Linked DNA regions of Homo sapiens: region 2 is linked to region 1. A link means that fine-mapping ties the variant in region 1 to the expression of a gene that starts in the linked region. Tissue or cell type: whole blood. Region 1 holds a variant in brackets; the other region holds the start of a gene. All regions are shown on one strand. Distances are between the middles of the regions.

What was found. PIP is the estimated chance that this variant, and not a neighbour inherited with it, causes the effect.
Region 2: KBTBD11 starts here. The variant in region 1 is fine-mapped to the expression of KBTBD11 in whole blood (TOPMed, PIP above 0.99).

The regions. Positions count from the first base shown.
Region 1 is chr8:2,018,908-2,023,121 of GRCh38, reverse strand. No RefSeq gene overlaps it. Among named protein-coding and RNA genes, the nearest start is that of MYOM2, 24 kb to the left of the region's middle. RefSeq lists an enhancer at 701-1,690. The variant T/C (reference allele first, on the strand shown) is at 2,146.
Region 2 is chr8:1,971,600-1,975,813 of GRCh38, reverse strand. KBTBD11 (kelch repeat and BTB domain containing 11) reads right to left here and starts at 2,137. Exons shown (of 2, transcript NM_014867.3): 1 at 1,879-2,137. KBTBD11-AS1 (KBTBD11 antisense RNA 1) reads left to right here and starts at 2,469. Exons shown (of 3, transcript NR_136275.1): 1 at 2,469-2,666; 2 at 3,151-3,274; 3 at 3,457-4,214. It overlaps KBTBD11-OT1 (KBTBD11 overlapping transcript 1), which reads right to left. Exons shown (of 3, transcript NR_126346.1): 2 at 3,777-3,889.

The DNA.
Region 1 (4,214 bases):
CGGGGGAGTTGTCAGATGGGAGGAGCCGCGGAGCTCCTCCTGAGGGCCGGCTGGGCCCACACGTGGTTCGCTTTGCGCTTTAAACATTAGAAGAGCGAGTCCTTTGTCCCAGCCCCGGCTGCTGCGCAGCAACAGGAATGCCTAGCAACAGAAACACCGACATCTCACAACTGTTGGGTGCGGAGGCCGGGGCAGACAGAGGGAGGCAGGGAGGCTGGGGCCAGTGTTCCCAGGTCACTCGTGGTCCCTGCTGCTGTGCCTTGTGGAAGGCAGGCCTCTCTGCTGCCACTTCTTGGCTGCCCCAAGGGCAAGCACACGCACAGGCTCCTCTGTTTCAAGGGTTTATGGGGAAATGGAGAAAGGGAGAGGGGAGCAATTAGGAAGAAGACTCTCTGGTCCTGTCCCTCAGCAGTCATGATGCTGTGGTCACCGGGGCCTCCACTCTTTCTCAAGGAAGGTTCTCAGCACATTGCTGTCTTCCAGGGGCCTGGCCAGGATCTGCCTCTGTGGCCTCACTCTTCTTCTGGGTCCTGCCCCCGTTGGGAAGGCAGAGCCTCCACCCTGGGCTCAGGCTGGCTGCCTTGATTCCACCCTCCTGGGACCTGCAGGCCTCCCACGAGATGCCTCCTCCAACCTTGGCCATGATCAGTGCCGACGCCCAGCACTGCCTCAGCAGGAGTACAGAGCCCATGGACACCAGGTGCAGGAGCACGGAGCCCGCGCATGTCGGGTGAAGGAGCACAGAGCTCACGCATGTCAATTGGGCGAGTGCTACCCAGGCCCTGATCCCCTGGCTGTGGGTACTAGGACGTGGTGCATTGTTGCCTAGAGGTAGCCCTGGTTCTACCCACCCTGACACATTCATGGCATTGAGTAGGTCCCTAGTGCTCTGGCCCAGCTGGCGATGGTCCTTCCAAGTCTGGTGGCTTCACACACAGTGCAGCACACGCTAGGTGAGTCTCACTGGGCCTCACTGTCCTTCCTCCCTCTCAGCCCACCTGGCATCTCCAGAGATGCCCACTCCAGGTCCCCAGCCTCAGCCATGCTCCTCACCCCTGCCAGGCTGGTCCCTGCTCACAGCCCCTGGCATCCCAGGCTCTCTCGGCTTGGCCTCCTCCTCCAGGATGCCTTCCCTAGGTCCCCTCAACTCGGCTCCATCCCAAACTCTGGTGCCACCCTCGCCAGCAGCCCATGCCTGCCGGGCCTCACTGGATGGGGTCGTTTTCAGTTCCCGGCCGCCCCGACAGTGGGATGAGCCACGACTGCATCTCATTCATCTCTGCCCGGCTGCACAGCTGGAGCTGGGTGCTGATTCATCTCTGCCCGGCTGCACAGCTGGAGCTGGGTGCTGATTCATCTCTGCCCGGCTGCACAGCTGGAGCTGGGTGCTGATTCATCTCTGCCCCGCTGTACACCCAGAGCTCAGTGCTGACTGAAAGAATTACCTCCAGAAACGCTTTGATATTATCCAGCCGTACCCAGAATCCAAATATCTGATGTGTTCAACCCAAACGACAAACGGGGGAGCGTTTGCATTGTGCCACGAGAATGATTAGCCATTTAACTAGACAGAGGAGTCAGATAGACAGAGTGAGGCAGAAGGCCCAGCCATGCCTAAGGGTCCAGGGTCACAGAACGAGTCCACAACTCCAGCTACAAATCACTCAGCCCCATAGCTTGACCTTTTCAAAAGAACACAGAAAGGAACTTCAAAGGAAATCCTGGAATAGTTAACAAAAAGCATAAGGAATTAACAACTTCATGTTCTTTTCTTCACTGCGATGACCTCTTTAAACAGCAGAGGCCACCAAGAGTTTCTCCGATGTGTTCCCTGAGTGCCACGGGGGAGACAGGGAGCGGGTTCCAAGGTCTGGACGGTGCAGAGAATGGGCTGTTGTCCTCAATCCCTGGTCCCCATCCCTTCTACACACAGGGGAAGACAATGGGCACTCTCTGTTCTGTGTTCTGCATCTCTGTCTGCACAGAGGGGGATCTGTGACAGGGAAGGTGGGGGGAGCATTGGGGTGCAGAGCTCGCCAGAGAGCCAGAGACGTCCTTTCTGCACATCCTCACAAGGAAAGGGCCTGGGAGGCGGCAGAACAGCAGAAAAAGAAAACAAATGGAAATTGCCAAAGCCAGTTTCCA[T/C]AGAAAATGTGAAGTGCTTTTATTGCATCAGCGTCCGGTGCCCAGCGCCTCTGCAGGCTGAGTGCTGACTCCCTGCTGGCTCTGCCCTGCCCCGCTAGGAGAGTCCCGGGCTGCGCAGGTGCACGTCTTGCTATCTGTGCCCGTCCAGGCTGTTTCTAGGTGACTCTGTGGCACTCTGTCCCCTCGGAGGGGACTGTCAGGAAAGCACAAGGCCTGTAGTTCATTCCTCAGTCACAATGGAATTTGACGTTAGAGCCACACAGCACCACAGTGTCAGCAAGACTAAGACACCATGTGAACCACAGAACTACAGAGCGGTTTTAGGAGTAAACATGTTCCAAATAGCAACAGCTGTTGGGCAGCTATTTAGCTGGAAAGGGAACCATGCTTGACCTCATAACTCCCAGGAAATTCATCTCAAGGAAAAGGGCAACTTTAATTAAATAGATTTTGTATCAACTTGTCCTGTATTATGACTCCAGCAGGGTCTGTTGTCTAAAACCAAAGAGAAAATGTGACTGTTCTGGCTTCTGCATGTATTTGAAGGATGACACGACATGGCGATTTTGTTAATGGACAGGCTGTATCTTTTTGATAGATTACATTTTTTCTTAGATTGTGTATGTAAGGTCAATTACATTAGGACCATTTGACGTTTCAGAGATTTTCCAAATTATGCCATGGAGGCAGAAGAAACTTTGAAGACTGTGCTGCAAAGGGTAACATCAAATTTTCAGAAAAACAAATAGCTTCACATTTTAATCTCACTCGTCTCTAAGCTTCTCCCCCCGACTGAGCTACTCAATCTGCTTGAAAGTCCAGGAAGCTCACACCGTCACACCCGAGCCTGTGATTTGATGGAGGGACGACAGCTCCCGAGATGTCTTTATGCGCACACAGGTGTTTAACGGGTGGAATAAATGTGTCAAGGTTGGAAGCCTGGTTTTGGGCAAATTACATTCTGGATCTGGAAATCACTGTGACAATTCTTCACAGGTATGTAGGCCACACGCCGAGTTGCTCACAGGATTAGCTATAAAGTCTGTGAACGTGCAAAATTATTTTGAAGTCTCCCACCGTCAGTGATAGCTGATACCTAAATTGTGTGACAATGTTCAATTCCGAGTTTAAAACTGACTTCATTTTACAGGCCTTGGGGGAAGAGGAGGCTGTGACATCCAGCCTGCACCATTCATAGAAGATGCTTTGTTCTGTGTGATTTGGGAAGGTGTTTTATAAGCCTGGTGCTGTTTATTGTTTAGCATCTCTCACAGACAACTCTCTTTCAAACCCCATTTCTCAAGCGTATCCTAATTCGACACCACCTATTGGTTATGACTTAGGTGTTGACAGTCCTGTTTAGTGTCCAATTTTGATTCCTTTTCCTGATTCTTGTTTTAGGTTTTGTCTTTTGAAGGCCATATGTAAGTGCAAGGAAACATGCTGTATTCTAATGAAACTTAAGATTTACATTCATTTTTTCAAGTGTTCATTTGACGTCCCTCCTACAATAAAAGTCTTCATCTTTTTATGTGACACTTCTCTTCAGTCAGAGCACAGCTCTCCCTCACTTGCAGATGTGAGACAGCCGGGGTTTCCTCCAGGCGCCCTCACTGTAAGCTGTGAGGCTCCCCACAACTTTCTGTTGTAGGACATAGCACATTCTTGATGACTTATTTGTGTATTAACTTGAATAGCGGTTTGTACACCTCCGTATATTAAGAGAACATGCGTGGAGGCAGAGTTTCTTATATAAAATCTATTCTTATTTCCTCTTATAAGAAATCTTGACAATAAATTAAGAGATTAGGGAGTTTACATATTGCATACTACTATTAACAAATATTAAATATTTTCATTGTTAAAAGATTAATGATTAACCCCAAAAAGAGAAACCATCAGGAAAAAAAGTATTGGATTTGATATTCAATGATATTCAATTAAGGATTGTTATTCAATAAAATATCCCACCAAAAAATGCTAACAGTTATGTGGAAGAATATATTTAACATTTCTAAAATACATAAAATGGTAATATCTAAATCTACAAGAAATTATAAATCCACAGA
Region 2 (4,214 bases), 47 kb after region 1:
GGATTCTTCCATCCACCCAGAGCAAGGTGCTCTGAGGTTCAAGTTAGGCCCAGACATCAGTCAACACAGAGTCCTGCTCCCTGGGAATTTCTTTAGTCTCAGAGCCACAACATTTAAGCTTTCTCCCCTCCTCCCAAGCCCAATGCTGGCTTAAATACAGTCACGAATGGTTCAGATGCAGACAGGTTCTGAGAAATGATAGTTAGATAACTTCATCACTGTGCAAACATCACACAGGGCACCTACACACCTAGGCGGTGCAGCCTGCTACACACCTGTGCTCCACTGCACAGACTCCTGCTCCAGACTGCACACCTGTGCAGCGTGCACAATACCGCAGGCAATTGTAACACAATGGTGTTTGTGTATCTACACATTTCTAAGCATGAAAAAGACACAGGGAAAACAGTTTTATAATCTTACAGGACCACCGTCAACTTGGCGGTCTGTAATTGATCCGAACGTGGCTGTGCTACACATCACTATAATGTAAGCAACATCTTTTAACTGATTTTATTATGTGCTGTCCAATGCTATGGCCAGCAATGCCTGTGCAACTGACATGGAAAGTTCAAAGGCTTTACCTCATTACAATTTTTACTTAGTTATGCCCTGATGGGAGCATTGCAATGCCAGTTACCATAAATCTGCACACACGAGGTTGTTGCTGGAGCAAATCTGAAGGCAATGGAACGCTCCCTTCCGTGATGTCAGGAATGGGGAGGATTATTCTAATAATAGCACACTATTAGCTCAGGATAAAAGGCTGAAGGGTTCCATTGACATCCATTAAGGGGTCCTAATTGGAGCCTGAGTAACTGCTCCTTAGTGGGAAATGGAGGCGGGAACCGCGGGGAATCGGGCGAACTTCTCACTCAGGGCCTGAGGGGATGGCTGGAACTTTAAAATCTGACGGCGGCGCCTTTCGTGGGCTGAGTAGAATAAAGCTCGCTGCACTGATTTGTTCCTTTTCTTTTCCTTAGAATAGACACTGGAGTGGGTGGAGGGGGAAACGTGGTTTTGTAGGACTCTAAAGAGGTGGAGGGACTTTGGTTCACCCTCTTTTCATGCTCCAGAATGAGCCCCGCCTGAGAGGAGGGACCCCTGCGGAATCCCGCCCAGACCGCCCGGGGGTCTCCCCAGCACATGGGGCGGGGGCTGCAAGGGGCGCCCGGCAGGACTCGGGAGCCGCGGCGCGGTGGGGCGGGTGGGTCGCGGTGCTCGGGGCTCGCGGGGGTCAGCAGCCAGGACACCCCCGCACCCCGGGCGCAGCGGCGGAGGACCAAGGGCCGCGCTCCCCTCCCCAGGGCCCCGAGTCCAGGAGAGACCCCCGTTCGCTCCGGACAGCCGATCCCCGCGACCGCCGAGAGCCAAGCGGAGCAACCCCGGGAGGAGCCCCCGCCCTGGCCCCGCGCGCTTGGCTTCGGCTTCTGCTCCTGCTTCCGTGCCGGCTGGGGCGGCGGGACCCTCGGCGGGGGCGGTGACTGCGGGCGCGGCGCGGGCGGCTCATTGTCTTCCGGCCGGGGTTGCCGCGTCCCGGGGGAGGGCCTGTGGAGACCCCGCGAGGAGGCCCCCACGCCCCCCACGCGGCCTCCCGGAGGCGGAGCGGAGACCACCCACCGCCGCCCACCCCGCCGCGGGCAGCGCTGCCCCCTCCTCTCCCGGTCCCCCCTCCCCTCCCCTCCGCTCCGCTCCCCTCCCTCCCCTGCCGGCCTCCCCTCCCCGCCTCTCCCCTGCCGGCCTCCCCTTTTCTCCCCTCCCGCCTACTGCCGCTCTCGCCGACCACCTCCCACCCGCCGCCCCCTCCGACCCGCGCCTCGGGCTGCTTCCCGCTCCGCCCGCCAGGCCCCGCCGCTGCCTCCCCGGGGTCCGCCCTACCTCGCCGCGGCTCCTCTTCAGCCGCCGGGCCCGGGACGCGCAGCCAGGCGGGTGGGCTCCGGCGCATGCGCGCGGCCGCTTCCCGGCACCTGTGGGAGCCGCGGCCCGGCCTCTCCGAGCACCTGCGAGCGGGAGCTGCTCCTCCGACCCGCAGCGGGGCGTGGGCGGCAGAGGGGGCGGTGGACAGGCCTCTCCGCCTCTCCAGGCCGCGCGGAGCCAGCGCTCCGGCTCCAGGCTGCGAGGGGCGCGCGCGGGGCGCGGGGAGGGGGGCGGGCGCGTGCACACGGGGCGTTTTCGGGCGCGCGCCCCCTGGCTGGGTCTGCGGAGGGGCTGTGGGTTCCCCGGGGCTTCCCTGCCCCGCGCCTGCCCGCCGGGCGCTTCTCCCCCTCCAGGACCGCGGCCCACGTCGCCACTCGAGCCCGAGCCCGAGCCCGCGCCCACGCGCGGGGGCCGCTTCCTGCGAGGAGGCGGGGACAGGTGTCCGCGGGCGCAAACAGCGGAGTTTCGTGCGCCTATTTTTTGGTAAAAGTAGAGGCGATGCGTTGTTGACATATTTAGTGGTTAAAAACTTATTGCCAAATTCTCAACAGATTCCAGAATTTTTTAAAGTTCACAACACGAGAGTGGACGAAATGTCGGAGCTTTTGCTCATATCCAGAAATGTGGCCTCTGCCTCCCACTCGGGCCCTGCGGTGCAGACGGGTTCAGGGCGGCGAGGACTGAGCCAGGAGCGCCGAGAGTTCCAGCTGCTCCCAGGCTGGGTTCTAATTAACGCTGGACCCCTGCTGGTAAATGCTATTTTTAATGGCTTTGTGCAAATTAATGACGATGAGATTTCCATAAGTACCGAGAGCCAGAGCCTTTACTTTCTCTTTTTGTGTTCTTTTTGCTTGTGACAGTCTTTGCCAGTTCCATGCTGTATACACATAATGAGCCGTTACAACTCCAGCACCAAAGCTAACGCCCCGGGAACATCTTTAAAACCTTTTTCACTCTGTTGCCAAGAAGAGTAGTACCTGCTGTCAGTACTTGAATTACAGGAGGCTGAAACTCAGCGAGCTACTGGGATTTTTTGAAAATTGAAAACTTCCGTTAACTATAGCAGAAACAGACCCTTTTGGTGGAAGCTAAAATAATTCCCATGCTGCTCCGTTTTTATTTTGTTCAGTTTACTCCAAAAATGTTCCAAACTCTACTGTGATCTTCTTAGTGCATCTCTACTTCCTTTCGGCTGCAGAATAATACTTCTTTTTCTCTTTTGTTTTTTTTTAGAGATGGAGTCTCACTCTGTCGCCCAGGCTGGAATGCAGTGGTGCAATCTCGGCTCACTGCGATCTCTGCGTCCTGGGTTCAAGCAATTCTCCTGCCTCAGCCTCCCAAGTAGCTGTGACTACAGGCATGCACCACCACACCCAGCTAAATTTTGTATTTTTAGTAGAGACAGGGTTTCACTGTACATTGGCCAGGCTGGTCTCGATCTCCTGACCTCAAGTGATCCACCTGTCTTGGCCTCCCAAAGTGCTGGGATTACAGGCATGAGCCACCGCGCCTGGCCTAACTACCCCCATTCTTTTCCAGAGAAACGTGAACAGGCCAAACAAAGCCTCACCTGGCTATCCCGCCACCCTGGGGTTGGGCCTCCAAAGGCCCGGGAGGTCACCTAAGACACGGTGTTCTGAACATGCAAGCCCGACAGCATCTTCTCTACCATTCTGCCAGAGTCCAGAGACCTGGGAATAGGTCATACCCCCCACTGCATTTTACAAGCTTGGCATACATTAGGTTCTCAATAAATACTGAATTAATGAAAAAATTGCTGAAGTAACTGAAAACATCCATCCAAACCCCACACCATCTGGTAGATAAGTAGTCTGTGGGGAGTCCCATATTTTTCTTACCTTAGATATTTATTTGGAAATGGACTGTAGGCCCAATATGGTCAATGAAACTTGCAGAGGAACATTTCATGCCTTTAATTAGTTCTTCATAACTGCAGGGACCTCTAGAGTTCCTGAAATTGAACTGGGTTGTAATACTGTCAAGAAAAAGGAGGACCTATCTTAAATCTATTTCAAGGGTAATACTATTTTACTATGTAAATTTTCCCCTGGTCAGGGACAGCCTGATCATGCATGGTAGACTCGAAGCATGCAAATATTTCAACATGCAAAACCGCCCTAAAAATATAACCGAAGCTTATGGAGTTGTCCAGGGTACAGTGGTTTACTGGCCCCTGAATGCGGGACTCCATCAAACTGGGTTCCAGGCTGGGAGGTCTCTGAACCCAATTTCTAGACAGCCTGCTTTGGAGTTCAACTGATGGGACCTTAGACACC